2 separate regions of the Homo sapiens genome follow, and region 1 is linked to region 2. The links come from fine-mapping of genetic effects on gene expression. Tissue or cell type: subcutaneous fat. Region 2 holds a variant in brackets; the other region holds the start of a gene. All regions are shown on one strand. Distances are from middle to middle.

What was found. PIP is the estimated chance that this variant, and not a neighbour inherited with it, causes the effect.
Region 1: NEURL2 starts here. The variant in region 2 is fine-mapped to the expression of NEURL2 in subcutaneous fat (GTEx, PIP 0.98).

Annotation. Positions count from the first base shown.
Region 1 is chr20:45,887,449-45,895,544 of GRCh38, forward strand. NEURL2 (neuralized E3 ubiquitin protein ligase 2) reads right to left here and starts at 3,760. Exons shown (of 2, transcript NM_080749.4): 1 at 2,802-3,760; 2 at 1,186-1,425. The coding sequence starts at 3,543. The coding sequence ends at 1,310. SPATA25 (spermatogenesis associated 25) reads right to left here and starts at 174. Exons shown (of 2, transcript NM_080608.4): 1 at 88-174. The coding sequence starts at 142. CTSA (cathepsin A) reads left to right here and starts at 3,887. Exons shown (of 15, transcript NM_000308.4): 1 at 3,887-3,931; 2 at 4,121-4,314; 3 at 4,468-4,579; 4 at 4,825-4,875; 5 at 4,950-5,036; 6 at 5,277-5,432; 7 at 5,772-5,863; 8 at 6,540-6,624; 9 at 7,202-7,293; 10 at 7,375-7,453; 11 at 7,546-7,685. The coding sequence starts at 4,121. RefSeq lists enhancers at 3,225-3,934, 4,174-4,223 and a silencer at 3,864-4,133.
Region 2 is chr20:45,952,657-45,960,656 of GRCh38, forward strand. ZNF335 (zinc finger protein 335) reads right to left here. Exons shown (of 28, transcript NM_022095.4): 12 at 7,960-8,000; 13 at 7,793-7,869; 14 at 7,552-7,712; 15 at 6,545-6,777; 16 at 5,179-5,272; 17 at 4,930-5,024; 18 at 1,033-1,292; 19 at 1-53. Among named protein-coding and RNA genes, the nearest start is that of ZNF335, 16 kb to the right of the region's middle. The variant C/T (reference allele first, on the strand shown) is at 4,728.

The DNA of each region.
Region 1 (8,096 bases), 65 kb before region 2:
GCAGAACCGCCACCTCCCCAGAGCCAGAAAGCAACTTCTCAGGGGAAGCTGCCGCACTCCCTCCAATTGCAGGTGCCCCCCGCTCACCTTGGCCGGAAGGCAGAGGACCTGGATGAGTTTGTGGAGTCCTGAAGTAGGACATGGCTTCCCCAAAGCCCCGGTTTGTGAGGGAATAGTGATCTGCCGCCTGTCCTCCCTTCTTCACCCTTCTAGAATGTCACCTCATAGACCCTCCCCTTCACACTTGGAATCCACTTTACAGCGTTGACCTATTCATTCTAGAACCTGGACATGACAATAGGATGAGGTTAAAAGAGCACCAGACCAGGAGCTGGGTGTTCTAGGTTCTTGCCCTAACCTTGAACGAGTCACCCAGATAGTTTTGTTCCTTGATATCCTTATCTGTAAAGTGTGTCTGATGACTGCCCACTACCTCATTAGGAGTTTTGAGGATGAAATGAGATCATTTGTATGGAAGCAGATGACCAGAGATGGAAACACAGGAGCCAAGTGCTTCGTGCCTTGTAGAGTAAGACTTCGGGTCAGACCCAGTATTGGTATTTTTCTTTTTCTTTTTTTGAGACAGAGTCTCACTTTGTCGCCATGACTGGAAGGCTGGAGTGCAGGAGCAAGACCTCAGCTCACTGCAACCTCTGCCTCCTGGGTTCATGCAATTCTCCTGCCTCAGCCTCCCGAGTAGCTGGGACTACAGGAACCTGCCACCACACCTGGCTAACTTTTGTATTTTTAGTAGAGACAGGGTTTCACCATGTTGGCCAGGCTGGTCTCAAACTCCTGACCTCAAGTGATCTGCCCACCTCGGCCTCCCAAAGTGCTGGGATTACAGGCCAGGTATTGGTATTTTTCAAAATTCCTCAAGTGATTATAATATATGACAAAGTTGGAACCTTTTTTCTAGGGACATACTTCTCAACCCTGGCTGTACATGAGAATCTCTTGAGAAGCTTTTACAAAACACAATGTCTAGGCCTAATTTCCCAACAAATCAAATACGAATCCCTAGGGATGGGATGTGGGACACCAGCACTCTTTACATATCCTAAGATGACTCTAACAAGCAGCCAGCCTAGGGACCCCTGCTCTTTTGCTCCGACCTGCTGACCTGCAGTGATTCTAAACGAAGTGACTCTCATAGGCTGTAGGGGCAAGGAGACCTTCCAGTGATCAAGATGTCAGCATCGGCTGTTTATTTCTGGTCTTGGCTGGCAGCAATGTGGCCAACTTCGGACCAGCCAGCCACAGGTCTGGGGCTCCAGGATGCAGCTGTGCTCTGGTGCACTGTGGGTCTTCACTCATACTTGCAGAAATCCTTAAGTTCTTTGGGCAGGTGGAGCCCATCAATGGCCAGCCGGTGCACCATGCTCCTTTGTATCACTAGGCGGCACAGAGTCTGCAGGGATGGCACTGTGGGAAGAAGACTGTGAAAGGCAAACTGAACTGGAGGGTGGGTCTGAGGCCAAGATCCAGAAGGTCTAGGTCATGGTCCCCACTTTGTCATTAAATGTGGGCAAGTCCTTACTGCTCTCTGGGCCCAGCCTGCTTCATGGGGCTGAGAGAAGCACCTCTTCCTGAGAGCTGCCACAAAGCTGCAGCCCTGTTTATATCATAACACTTAGCACAATCCCTTCCCCATTCACTTAGCAGCTTCTGGGGGCAGGGGTAGTGTCTGATTTGCCTGTGCAACTGAAGCCTCCAGCACAGGCCTGGCACAAAGAGGGTTCTGGTGCATTGAGTTCATGAAATGTGATGAGAGGTATAACTGCAATGCTTACCAGGGCTATAATGAATCATACTCAGCATTAAGAAGCTCTCAGTCTGGGGTTTGTTATGCCTCGAAGCCAATAGCCAATATGCCCAAGTCTATGAGCATGTTTCTTTCTTTTCTTTCTTTTTTTTTTTTTATTTAAAGAGAGAGGGTCTTGCTCTGTCACCCAGGCTGAAGTGCAGTGCTCAGTGAACTGCAGCCTTCAATTCTTGGGCTCAAGCGATCCTCCTGCCTTAGCCTCCCAAATAGCTGGGACTACAGGCATGCACCACCATGCCCAGATAATTATTTAATTTTTTGTACAGATGGGGTCTCACTTTGTTGCCCAGGCTTGAGCTAGCTAGCTTGCTTGCTTGCTTGCTTTCTCTCTCTTCCTCTCTCTCTCTCTTTCTTTTTTTTTTCAGAGTCTTGCTCTGTTGCCTAGGCTGGAGTGCACTGGTGAGATCTCGGCTCATTGCAACCTCCACCTCTCGGGTTCAAGTGACTCTCCTGCCTCAGCCTTCTGAATAGCTGGGATTATTGGCACATGCCACCACACCCAGCTACTTTTTGTATTTTTAGTAGAGACAGGCTTTCACCATGTTGGCCAGGCTGGTCTCGAACTCCTGGCCTCAAGTGATCTGCCTGCCTCCCCCTCCCAAAGTGCTGGGATTACAGGTGTGAGCCACTGTGCCCGGCCAAGCATGTTTCTAAGAAAAGGGCAAACAATTCTCAAAGAGGCCCCTAATATCTAAAATTGGTTTAGAATCCCTGCCCTAGGTGAATACAGGAAACACTATCAAAACTAAAAGGGAACTTGTAGGGCATCTTAATCAATCAACCAAGATAGGTACCAAGGCCCAAAACCATGTAGAGGCTTGTGCAAGATCACAAGCAGAGGTGCAATTTGAAGCTAGATTCTCCCACTCTTAAACTAGTGCCGGACAGACGAAGGCCTAGCACATGGGCTACGGAGCCCTAGTAGATTCCAGTCCCCACACTGAGCCAGGAGGGGTCGCTGCCCAGGGATACCTACAGCCATACTCGAGCTGGACAAGGCGCACGCTCTTTGTGGAAGCAAACACGTCCACCACCGCGTAGAGGGGCTGCGCAGCTGGCAGTCCCCGGGCGCTCGGGCCCATGTCCTCGCCGTTGATGATGATGTGCATGTCGGCCGTGCCATCGGGGCGCGGGCAAAAGAGGACACCCAGGCGGCTACGGCGCGCGGTCGGAGGCAGCACGTTCAGCTCATAGAGCTGGTCCAAGAGATGGCTGTAGAGCCCTGGCCGGCTGCGGCCCACCAGGCGGTCCCGGGGAATGCGAAACTGCTCAATGCGCAGATATGGTTCCACGAGGAGGGTTGGAGGTCGGCTGGGGGCCGCTGCCTCCGCCTCCGGGCGGCCCTCCCGGGGCACGCGGTTGTGGTGGCGCGTGATGGCGAAGACCCAGGTGTGGCCCAGGTTGACCAGATCGGGCAGAGAAAACTCGGGAACGGGGGCCAGACTGGCGGGGTCCAGCGCGGTCAGACCGAGACGCAGATGTCCGCACCAGCCCAGCTCTTTCTCCTCGATCTCGACCAGGAAGACCTGGCCCGGGGCCAGCGGCTCGCGGCTGAAGCACACGCCGTGGGCGAAGCTCTCCACGCGTGTGGCCCGCGTCCCAGAGGGGTCCACGCGGATGTTGGCACCGTGCACCCGATGGAAGCGGGTGGGAGGGGGCTCCGGGCGCTCGAGTCCCCAGAGTGCACCCGAATCCACGGGCTCGGAGGCAGCAGCCATCTCTCGGCCATAGGGCAGGCCAGCTGGCGCCGGGGGCTATTTTGGGCGGCGGGCAATGATGGTGACCGCAAGGCGACCTTGTAAGGCATTTCCCCCCTGACTCCCTTCCCCGAGCCTCTGCCCGGGGGTCCTAGCGCCGCTTTCTCAGCCATCCCGCCTACAACTTAGCCGTCCACAACAGGATCATCTGATCGCGTGCGCCCGGGCTACGATCTGCGAGGCCCGCGGACCTTGACCCGGCATTGACCGCCACCGCCCCCCAGGTCCGTAGGGACCAAAGAAGGGGCGGGAGGAAGACTGTCACGTGGCGCCGGAGTTCACGTGACTCGTACACATGACTTCCAGTCCCCGGGCGCCTCCTGGAGAGCAAGGACGCGGGGGAGCAGAGGTGAGCTGGCACCGGAGGCTGGAGGGGATCCCCGAGCCCGGGATCGGTGCGCGGCAGAGGAGGCTCGCGGGTGGGAGCTGGCGCTGGGGCCGGGGCTTCCCTCGCGGAGGCGCCGCCAGCAACTCCCCGGGGGCTGCTGCACGGAAGCGCTGAGGAGCGAGTCAACAGCCCCTCTGCTGCCTCCCGTAGATGATCCGAGCCGCGCCGCCGCCGCTGTTCCTGCTGCTGCTGCTGCTGCTGCTGCTAGTGTCCTGGGCGTCCCGAGGCGAGGCAGCCCCCGACCAGGACGAGATCCAGCGCCTCCCCGGGCTGGCCAAGCAGCCGTCTTTCCGCCAGTACTCCGGCTACCTCAAAGGCTCCGGCTCCAAGCACCTCCACTACTGGTCTGCCGCCCTGCCTTCTGGGCGGGATTGGGAGAAGAGATGACGGATGAGGGATGGGGGGTAGTTCTGCAGACCCCTGAGGATGCCTGGGAGCCGGGAGGGCTGGAAAGGGCCCCTCCAACTGCGCCAACCCTGCCCTGACCCCCCTCCCAGGTTTGTGGAGTCCCAGAAGGATCCCGAGAACAGCCCTGTGGTGCTTTGGCTCAATGGGGGTCCCGGCTGCAGCTCACTAGATGGGCTCCTCACAGAGCATGGCCCCTTCCTGGTGAGTGGACAGCAGGGGGAAAGCACAGTTCCCAAAGTAAAAGGCTGGGGAAAGCGAGAGAGGGGCTTTGTGATTTTCCAAAAAGTTTCCTTCCTTCTAAGCCTCGGGATTTTCCTCTATGCCATTGGCTTTGCTGCCTGTACCTCTCAGAGGTTTTACCCACATGTAAAGTGCCTCTCATGGTGGCCCTTTCCCTCCACCCAGCTGGCCCTTGGGACTTACTCAGCCATCTCTTTCCTCCTCAGGTCCAGCCAGATGGTGTCACCCTGGAGTACAACCCCTATTCTTGGAATCTGGTATAGCTGGAGCTGTGGGTGTGTCTGGGCACTTGGATGGGGTGGCATTTAGCTAATTTTTCCCTCCCCTCTAGATTGCCAATGTGTTATACCTGGAGTCCCCAGCTGGGGTGGGCTTCTCCTACTCCGATGACAAGTTTTATGCAACTAATGACACTGAGGTGAGTCTGGTGCCTGCCCATCTGCCCCAGGCTCCCCGGTCCTCCATCCATGGCATGATGCTGGGAGAGAGAGCATGGCCTTGGAGTCTACTTTTCGCTCTGTCATATGCTATTGTGGTATGGTGGCCAGTCACTTCCTCTTGCACAAATAGGGTGGGTTAATGTCATTATCTCTGAAGTTCTTTCCAGTTCAAATACCAAAGCTTCCTGATTCCCTCTGTCTTGCTCTGCCATCCCCAGGTCGCCCAGAGCAATTTTGAGGCCCTTCAAGATTTCTTCCGCCTCTTTCCGGAGTACAAGAACAACAAACTTTTCCTGACCGGGGAGAGCTATGCTGGCATCTACATCCCCACCCTGGCCGTGCTGGTCATGCAGGATCCCAGCATGAACCTTCAGGTGCAGGGTAGCTGCAGGAGGGAAGGGAGGTAGCTTGAGGCTGTGGCCTTACAGTTAGCAAGGTCAGACTGACTGGTCAATGTCCCCATCCAACCCAGCTTCCTGCATAACCTCCCCACCACCGGCTGCCCTAGGTCTGTCTGTGTGCCTCCCACACAGGAAACTCACCTGTCAGGCTGCCAGCTCTGTGTTTTGCATTGAGTGGCCTCTCATACCCACCGGCCTACATAAACCACCCTGGGTTTCAGCTTCCGGATTGCTGAAGGTCTGGGTGGTAGGGTGAGGGAGGCTCTTCCTTTTTGCCCTCCACATGAGCTGAGCACCCTGGGTGTTTCACAGGGGCTGGCTGTGGGCAATGGACTCTCCTCCTATGAGCAGAATGACAACTCCCTGGTCTACTTTGCCTACTACCATGGCCTTCTGGGGAACAGGTATGGGATAGGGCAGTTGGGCAATCTCTGGGGTGAGGCAGGTCACATGATCTCAGGTCTGTCCTCCAGGCACATGATATGACAGGCCCAGCCCAGGTTTATGAGCAGCAGGTGGGTTGCAGAAAGAACCTAGTGCTGAAAGGCCAAAGAATAGAGATCAGTTTTTCTTTCTTTCTTTTTTTTTTTTTTGAGACAGATTCTTACTTTGTCACCCAGGCTGGAGTGCAGTGGCACGATCTTAGCTCACTGCAACCTCCACCTCCCAGGTTCAAGCAATTCTCATGCCTCAGACTCCCAGGCAGCTGGGACTACAGGCGCGTACCACCACACCTGCCTAATTTTTTGTATTTTTAGTAGAGATGGGGTTTTGCTGTGTTGGCCAGGCTGGACTTGAACTCCTGGCCTCAAATGATCTTCCCAAAGTGCTGGGATTACAGGCATGAGCTACAGCGCCCAGCCAGAAATCAGATTTTAAAGGAACTAAGGAGGCCTGTCTGTATGACCCTGGGGCACCTCTTTGGGAGCTAGCTTAGATGACATACAGACCACACCCTGTGATATCTTTCCCAGTCTCCTAGGGTCAGGGAGGTTGGTGGGAGGTGGGGGGTATGCTCGCCTCCTCTGCCTTCCTCTTCCCACCAGCAGCTGATGCGCTTTTCACTCTCATCTCCTACAGGCTTTGGTCTTCTCTCCAGACCCACTGCTGCTCTCAAAACAAGTGTAACTTCTATGACAACAAAGACCTGGAATGCGTGACCAATGTGAGGTTCTGCCATCACTTTGCATGAGCTCTCCCATCCCTAATCCTGAGAACAGGACCACATTCCCTCCTTGGGGACTCCTTGTTCTCCGTCCCTCATTGCTTTCTTGCACCTTTAAGCAATTTAGTGTTCTCTGGGACATGTGTCTAAGTGTGTATTCCCACCACCACCTCCTATGGTGGCAAATCCCATAACCTCCGTGAGGAGAAAGGACTTCTTCACATTTATCAAACACCTGCAACGTGGCAGGCACTGTGCTGAACTGTGTCTATGTAGATTATTTAAGCTTCAAGATTCCCCCTCAAATGAGATCATACTACCCACATTTTCCAGATAAGGAAACTGAGGGCTATGAATTTTGAAATCACTGTCTGAAGTCACAGTGTTGGGAGGCAGTGATGCTAGGATTTGGACCCAGGTCTGGGAAGATTCCTGCCACTGAGCCTCAGTTTCCCTACCTGTGAAAAAAAGTGGGTGAAGAGGTGAAATCCAAGAGCAGTAAATCTTGGGACAACTTGGTGGGGTCGTGGAGAGGCTGGGGATCTGTAAAGCATGGTGGCTTGGTGTATCATTGCAGCTTCAGGAAGTGGCCCGCATCGTGGGCAACTCTGGCCTCAACATCTACAATCTCTATGCCCCGTGTGCTGGAGGGGTGCCCAGCCATTTTAGGTAGGTGCTGCTGGGTGCCCCTGGAGCCAACCCCAGCCCCATCTGGAGGCTCCACACCCATTCCCCCACCTCACATTGCAGGTATGAGAAGGACACTGTTGTGGTCCAGGATTTGGGCAACATCTTCACTCGCCTGCCACTCAAGCGGATGTGGCATCAGGTGTGCGAGGGCGTGGGCTTCCTCCTGGTGAGGTGGGGGCAGGGGGAGGGGCAGGGAAGCAGAGGCCCTGACCCACTGTCTGTGCCTTCCAGGCACTGCTGCGCTCAGGGGATAAAGTGCGCATGGACCCCCCCTGCACCAACACAACAGCTGCTTCCACCTACCTCAACAACCCGTACGTGCGGAAGGCCCTCAACATCCCGGAGCAGCTGCCACAATGGGACATGTGCAAGTGAGGTTCCGTGGCCACCTGTGACTTGGGGTGGTGGGTTGCTGGGGCTTGTGGGCATCGGCAGGTTTCTCAGGGATCTTCTGTGTAGAGTTTCTCAATGAGATGAGCTGTAGAGGATGTTTAACATCCATCCCTGACCCCTCAGTGGATTGAGAGTCAGCCAATTCATTCTTTTATCTTTTTTAAATTTAAAATTTTTTTGTTTGAGACAAGGTCTCACTCTGTCACCTAGGCTGGAGTGCAGTGGTGTGATCATAGCTCACTGCAGCCTCAAACTCATGGGCTCAAGCAATCCTCCCACCTCCCCAGTAGCTGGGACTACAGACGCACCACCACCCCCAACAAGTTTTTGTATTTTTTGTACAGATGGTGTTTTACCACATTGCTCAGGCTGGTTTTGAACTCTGGGGC
Region 2 (8,000 bases):
TTAGGGTGTCACTCACAACCACAGCCTGGGCTGCCTCTCCTGCGGGCTCCTCGCTGTGGGCATGGAGAAGGTTCTAGGAGAAGATGGAGGGCCACAGGAGCCCCCTTCCCCAAGCAACAGGCATCAACTGAGGAGTGACTGTCACCACAGATGGACTCAAGTCAGAAGGGCCCAGGGTTCAACTGTGGCTCTGCCCTGTTACCAAATGACCCTCTACCATGTCTCTTGTAAATGATTACAACTCAAGCATGGGTCCTTCTCAAAAGCTGGTAATTCTTGTCCTCGGCAAACATGGCGAGGTGGGGGGCACACAGTGAGGCAGAGGGGTCTAACCCAACCAGTAGCAAACGGTGAATCCACCACCAGGAGCTAGTGGAGGAGGCAGGGCTAACGAGGACCTGCTGCCTAAGAGCAGACAGCAAATGCTGAGACTGGCCGCCCAGGTGCTGGCCAAGGGCATGGGCCTGGGGATCCTGACTCCCTGCTCAGCTCAACAATTTGGCACTTGGATTCAGGGCTTCCTCAGATGGCCTAAGAGTTTGGTGAACATAAACATGCCTGCCCAAGCTCATTCACTGTAGGGAAGCCAAGTACAGGTGCCAGGCCTCAATGCTGGTAAAGAGGCCTGAGCTTGCTCGGAGTGTCAGAACTGAAGAACACCTGGGATCACCCAAGAAGAGCACTTGGGCATGGGAACCAAAGGGACCAGGGTTCAAATCTCACCTACTGCATGTGTGGTTTCAGGCTGGTCACTTAACCTCCCTGGCCCATTTCCTCATTTGTAAAACAAGGGAAATCTGGGTCTCATGGGAATGGCTTAGGTCCCATCATGAGTGCCAAGTGCTTGGAATATCTAAGTGGCTAAAAAATGGTAGCTCTTGACCTCCTGAGAAGGGTAGACTCCACCACTAATCACTTGATGTGTATTGGGATTTTTGCCTCCTGCCAACTAGGCTTGGGTGGGGCCCAAATCGGACCGACCGACCACACCTACAAAAAGCTGAAAGGGGCCTTGCAGGCAGCAGGTCTCACCTGTAAGGTGTGCCAGGAGCTGATGTTCCCTCCTCCATAGGGGGTGCTGTGATGACACTGTAGCCAGTCCCACCAAATGGACCAGGTGCCAGGGTGATCTGCGGTAGGTCAGGAGGGCCTAGCTGGCTCTCGGCTGCTGCACCGCCCCCTGGCTCTGCCACGTGGAGGGTGACCACCTGTGGAGTGGCACCTTCAGGGGAGGGCTGCCCACCAGGGGATGCTAACCCTGCTTCCACATCTTCCGACTTCACCACAGCCACCTGCAACGGCACCAGGGGGCGGGATGGGAGGCACTGGTGGCAGAGGAGCGGGTATGCAAGACGCCTCCCCCATCTCAGTGTCCCAGATGCACCCACACACTCTAGTCAGACCAGTGCTGCCACCACTCATTTGAATAGCCCAAGTTCTTTCTAAAATATACTCTGGCTTTCCAAATCCCACTCAGCAACTGGAAATAGACCAACAGGAATAGGGCAGAGCAGTTGTGCCCCCCACAAAGATTTGGCAACGTCTGGAGACATTTCTTATCACAGCAGGAGGGGGATGGTACTGGCATATAGTCGGGAGAGGCCAGGGATGCCGCTGAACACCCCATAATGCACAGGACCGCCCCACCACACAATAGTATCTGCCTCAACATGCTAACAGCGCTGCAGACAAGAAATACTGGGGACAACTGACAAATCACTTAGAAAAAAGCTCCAGTGTACATCTTATTCCAGTTGGCTTCAAATGGTTTAAAGATTAAAATGTAATAAAACTCTAAATATATTAAAATAAAACGTAGGTAAGTATTTTAGAATTGGGACAGGGAGATTTTTCTAATCATGACAGAGAAAGATAAAACCTAGAGCAAAATTAACCATAAAATGAAGCCAAAAAACAAAGAAATTGGGGTTGGGGGATATTTCACAACTCATAAAAAGTGGACTTCCCTCATATATGGAGCTCCTGCAAAGCAATAACTAAAAGCTAACAATAGAAAAACAAATACAGGACACAAACAGGTACTTTAGAAAGGAATAAAATGGTCTCTGAACATACAGAGAGGAGTTCAACCTCATTTACGGTCATACAATTACTTTTTTTTTTTTTTTTTTTTTTTGAGACTGGGTATTGCTCAGGCTGGAGTGCAGTGGTACGATTACAGCTCACTGCAGCCTCAACCTCCTGGGCTCAAGCGATCCTCCCACCTCAGCCTCTCAAGTAGCTGGTACTACAGGCATGCATTGCCACACCCGGCTAATTTTTTAAGAGACAGGGTTTCACCATGTTGTCCAGGCTGGTCTCAAACTCCTGGACTCAAGCAATTCTCCTGCCTTGGCCTCCCAAAGTGCTGGGATTACAAGTGTGAGATTGGTAAAGATTTATAACGACTGAGGCCGGGCGTGGTGGCTCACGCCTGTAATTCCAGCACTCTGGAAGGCCGAGGCGGGCAGATCATGAGGTCAGGAAATCGAGACCATCCTGCTTAACATGGTGAAACCCCATCTCTACTAAAAATAAAAAAATAAAAGAAGCCAGTCGTGGTGGTGGGTGTCTGTAGTCCCAGCTACTTGGGAGGCTGAGGCAGAATGGTGTGAACCCGGGAGGCGGAGGTTGCAGTGAGCCGAGATCGCACCACTGCACTCCAGCTTGGGCAACAGAGCAAGACTCTGTCTCAAAAAAAAAAAAAAAAAAAAGATTTATAAAGACTGATAATACCCAGTGTATTGGCATGAATGCAGGGAAATATACCCTACTGGTGGCCACGTATACTGGCGTATCTTTTTACAAGGCTTCTCACCATACCCTCTGACCCACTAATTCTTCTTGTAGGAGGCTTTTTAAAAACACTACAAAGATGTTGGCTGGGTACGGTGGCTCACACCTGTAATCCTGGCACTTTGGGAGGCCAAGGCAGGCAGATCACTTGAGGTCAGGAGTTCGAAACTAGCCTGGCCAATATGGTGAAACCCTATCCCTACTAAAAATACAAAAAAGTAGCCAGGTGTGGTGACGTGCACCTGTAATCCCAGCAACTCAGGAGGCCGAGGTAGGACAATCATTTGAACCCAGGAGGCGGAGGTTGCAGGGAGCCAACATCACGCCACTGCACTCCAGCCTGGGTGACAAAATGAGACTCCATCTCAAAAAAAAAAAAAATTTATGAGCACTGAAAATATATGTACAGTGAAGCACTGCTTGAATTAATATAAAACGAAAGAACCCAGCCAATAAAGGACTGCCTAACTATAGCTGAGAACATCCATGTGATCAAATGATACAGAGATGCAAGATGGAGATCTTAGGAGAATAAGGGTAACTGCAGGTGCTGGCCAGGCCGTGCATCACATGCTGTTAGGTAAAAGATGACGCTGAGGAGCAGCCAATAATGTGATCCCATTTTTTAAGGAACAAAGGTCTAGGTGTTGGTATGAACATGAACAAATCCCTGAAGAAATTCTTCTGAACCCATTTACTGGGTATCTGATGGGAGGGGAGAAATGCCAAGGACTTTCACCTTCTACTGAAACATTTCCTAATGTTCATTTTTTTCTTTTTTTCTTTTTTTTTTTTTAGATGGAGTTTTGCTCGTTGGCCAGGCTGGAGTGCAATGGCGCAATCTCGGCTCACCGTAACCTCCGCCTCCTGGGTTCAAGCGATTCTCCTGCCTCGGCCTCCCGAGTGGCTGGGATTACAGACGTGTGCCACCACGCCCAGCTAATTTTGTATTTTTAGTAGCAATGGGGTTTCTCCATGTTGGTCAGGCTGGTCTCGAACTCCTGACCTCAGGTGATCCAGCCACCTTGGCGTCCCAAAGTGCTGGGATTACAGGCATAAGCCACCACGCCAGGCCCATTTTGTTTCTTTTACAAGCATGTGCTTTTGTAAGCAGAAAAACTCTACCACATGAGATTGGCATGGGAACAGGAGACAAATCAATAGAACAGAACTCAAGTCTAGAAACAGACTCCTACATATTTGGGAATCTAGTATATGAGGAGGACACTTCAAACCACAGGTGAAGATACCACGTCGGATGACTTCTGGAAAAAAAAAAATCGATCCCTACCTTTCTGCATACACCAGAAATAAATTCCAGGTGGAGTAAGATTTAAGTGTAAAAAATAAAACCCTAAGAAAAAAATATAAATGAATGTTTTATAACCTTGGGATACAAGTTGGGGGAGTCTTTCTAGGGATGATACCAAAGGGAAAACTATAAAAGACTGATAAATTTTCCTATCTAAAAATGTAAAACTTCTATACACCCCTAACTGCCATGAACTAAATTATTATGATTTCTGGAATTCATCATCTTAAAAACACACTCTCCATCTTCTCATGAGGCTGGGAAACAGGAGGGGCTAATAAACTTCCCTCTGCCTTGGAGACCAGGCCAGATGTGAACGGGGAGGGCAGGGAGGGGCAAAGGTGTTGAACTTTGGGGAGGTGCATGAACCAAGACCCCTGGAACGCGAGAGAGTGGTCTGATCTAGAGGAAGCCCTGGGGTCTGCAGGCTGTAGGAGGTGTCCCGGAATGAGGGCGCTCTTGTGGATGGAAAAGCTAGTTCAAGCTGTGGGGGCACCCACAGGCACATGGTGGTTGCAGAGGTGGGAGGAAGACAAAACAAGAACAGGGCCCCAGATGCCGCAGGGGCAGTGTGTACTGCTCCACCTGGCAGAGGTCACCAGTGATTCTGGAGAATGGA[C/T]GGGATACCCTGCGGCCTCCGTGGCAAAGCCTGTTCCTCTCTGTTTGCCCACCAGACTTCAGCAGATCTGTCTCCTCCACTGCCTGGGAGCTCCCAAGGGCGGAGAAGCTCTGATACACTGTTTTCCTCTAGTCCCAGTGTCCAGTGCAGGGCTGGGTACCTGCGGTAGCTGGGAAGGGGAGCAGGTTCCCAGGCAGCTCACCTGCAGGGCTGTGCCCCCCAGTTCCCGCTGAGCACTCATGTTCAGCAGAAGATCCAAGGCTGTCTGCGTGGCCATCGCTGTCGACTCCTCAGCTCCTGGGTGGGGTGGGACCTAAGCCTGACAAAGTGCTAGAAAACTGGCACCCAATACCACCCCCTCCCCATCTTCCAGCCCCCACCAGCACGACCTGCCCCTGCCCAACTCAGAGGTCCTACCCTCCATGAGCTCCTATCCTCCTACAGAGCTCACCTTGCTGGTAGATGATGGTGGCGCCGCCCAGGGTGTCAGAACAGAGCAATGAGGGAGCCTCAGATGACTGGAAAGTTGTCGCCTCTGGGGGTATCTATGGGGTGGAGATATGGCCACGCCTGAGAGGGGCCAGCCCAGATTCAAGTGCCATTTGCCAAGCACCTCTGATCTGCCAGATGTTTTACATCTGTTGGCTTGTTTCATCTTCATAACCACTTTTCTTTTTTTTTTTTTGAGATGGAGTCTCTCTGTCATGCAGGCTGGAGTACAATGGCTCAATCTAGGCTCACTACAACCTCTGCCCCTGGGTTCAAGTGATTCTTGTGTCTCAGCCTCCTGAATAGCTGGGATTACAAGTGGCCGCCACCACACCCAGCTAATTTTTATATTTTTAGTAGAGATGGGGTTTCTCCATGTTGGTCGGCTGGTTTCAAACTCCTGACTTCAAGTGATCCACCCACCTCGGCCTCCCAAAGTGCTGGGATTACAGGCATGGGCCACCATGCCCAGCCCATAACCAGTTTTCAAAATATACGAGCTCAGTGCTACAGATGAACCCACTAAGGCTCAGAGAGGTGAAGTGGCTGGCCAAGAATCCCACTCCTAATACATAGTAGGGTGAGGGCTTGAACCCATGACTGTGTGATTCCAGGGCCTGTGATCTACCAGCAAGTCATGTGGTCCATCTTTCCAGGGATAGTGTGTCAGCTCACGTGGCAGAGACTGCTAGCTACCTATCCTGAGGCCATCCTCCTCTTCCCTCTTGCTAACAGAACTCTGATTTTCACCAGGGTGGCAATGTACCCAGCTCCAAGACATTTCTCAGCCTCCCTTGCAGCTAGGTAAAGTGTGGCCACATGACTAAGCAACGATCTTCAGGTGAAGTTCATGAGGAATGATGGATAGATGGTAGGTATCCTTTTTGCCTCTCCCCCATCCCTTCCTCCTGCTTCCTGCCTGGGATGTGGCTGGGAAGGCTGGTGCTCCTGCAGCTATACTGGACCATGAGGCAACTACAAAGATGAAAGTCATATGCCTGGGATGACTGGGCAAAGATACTGAGAACTTATTCCCTTACGACTGTATAATCACCGCACCAGCCCTAGACTGCCGACCTGTGGAATTCTTGTATAAGAGAGAATAAAAACTATGATCACAGTTAAGTTACTGGTGTTTCCATTCTCTATTACCAGCACTAGAAAGCCACCCTTACTCTAAGCTTAGGGCTGGCATATGTGTGACTCAGTGAGTTTTTACCACAGTCTCAAGAGGCAGGGATTATTTTGTTGCATCTCAATGTGCAAATGATGCTGGGGCTGGGAGAAGCGGCCTCACTCTGTCATCCTGACCCATGCCCCGACCTTACCTCAGGAGGTCCTGGGGAACTGGGAGGTGGTCCAGGGGCCGCACTGTGCTGCTGCTTCAGCTCCTCAATCTGCTGCAGAGAGAAGAAGGGGCGACGGCGGGAGGGGGGCTCCTCAGGGTGGCGCCTCCCCCATTCCTCGAAGCTGCTTGCGTGTCGGCACCGTACGTGCAGGCGCAGGTTCTTCTTGTGCCGTGTGCTGAAGTGGCAGTACTCACAGGCGAAGGGCTTGGCCCCTGGAGGCACATGTTGGGGCATGCTTAAGTCTGCCCGTCCCTAGCCTACCCCCTCCAGGAATCCTTTCTTGACCCTAAGGATCTCTCCAACTGACTGACTTCCAGCGATTCATTCCCGTATGTAGGCAAACACATGCCACTGTCCATTCTGGTGGCCCAGGACAGAAATGAATCAGGGCCGCCCTCTGCACTCAAGAGCCTTCCTGTGCCTACCTATTTGCAAAGTCATGTGACTACAAGCTCCTGTGGGTCATCACAGGACTCTGGCTAAGGGAACCCCTGGCTCCTTTTCTGTAATCGCCCCTAGTGTGCTGACCAGGGAGCTAGGCACCAAAGAAACAATGTTTGCAGTGCAGCTTCTGTGGGCCAAGCCAATGGCGTTGCTTCTGCAGCTTCATCTGCCAAGGCAGGGTCTGGAAGAGCCTCCTCTCCAGCCCCAGTGCCAGCACACACAAGGCTCAAGGAACAAATGGAACTTACTTTCATCATAGCCATATGGCAGGCACTCTGATTCCCCCATTTCATAAATATGGAAGGCTCGGAGAGGGCAAGCGACCGGCCCAGAGCCATCCAGAGAACAACCAGCCAAGCAGGAACCCAGGCTCAGGTTAGGGTGAATACGCCTATGGGAAATTCTCTTTACACTTGAAGGACTTGGGCTGTTCTGTGGCTGGGGCTACCGAGGGGGAAGGAAGAGGATGGGAGCTAAGCCTCTGATCAGGGGTACAGGGCACTGAGGGCTGGTGAGTGGGGCTGGGGTGTGTCCAGCCTGACCTGTGTGCTTGACAGCCACATGGGACAGCAAGAAGTCCTCTCGGAAGGTGCGGTAGGGACAAAAGCTGCATTTGAAGGGCTTGTCACTGACGTGGGACAACTGGTGGTTCAGCAGTGCCTTCTTGTCTTCACAAACAAACTCACAGAACTCACACTTGAACCTGGAGGCGGTTAGAGGGAGGGAAGCTCAGTAATGAGCTGGGGACTGCTCCCGTCCCCAGGGGCCTCCAAGGGGATGTACCTGCGGTTGGCAACAGCCTGGATGTGCGTGAGCAGGTGCATTTTGAAGGTGTAGCGCTTCTTAAAGGACTTTCCACACTGTGAGGGGTGGAGAGCAGTGAGATGGCGATCACCCTCCATCACCCAGGGGAGGCCCTCCTCTCAGCCCCAGCCCTGGCTCCCACCCACCTTGTCACACATGTGGGGCTTCTCAGTGCTGTGCGTCTTCA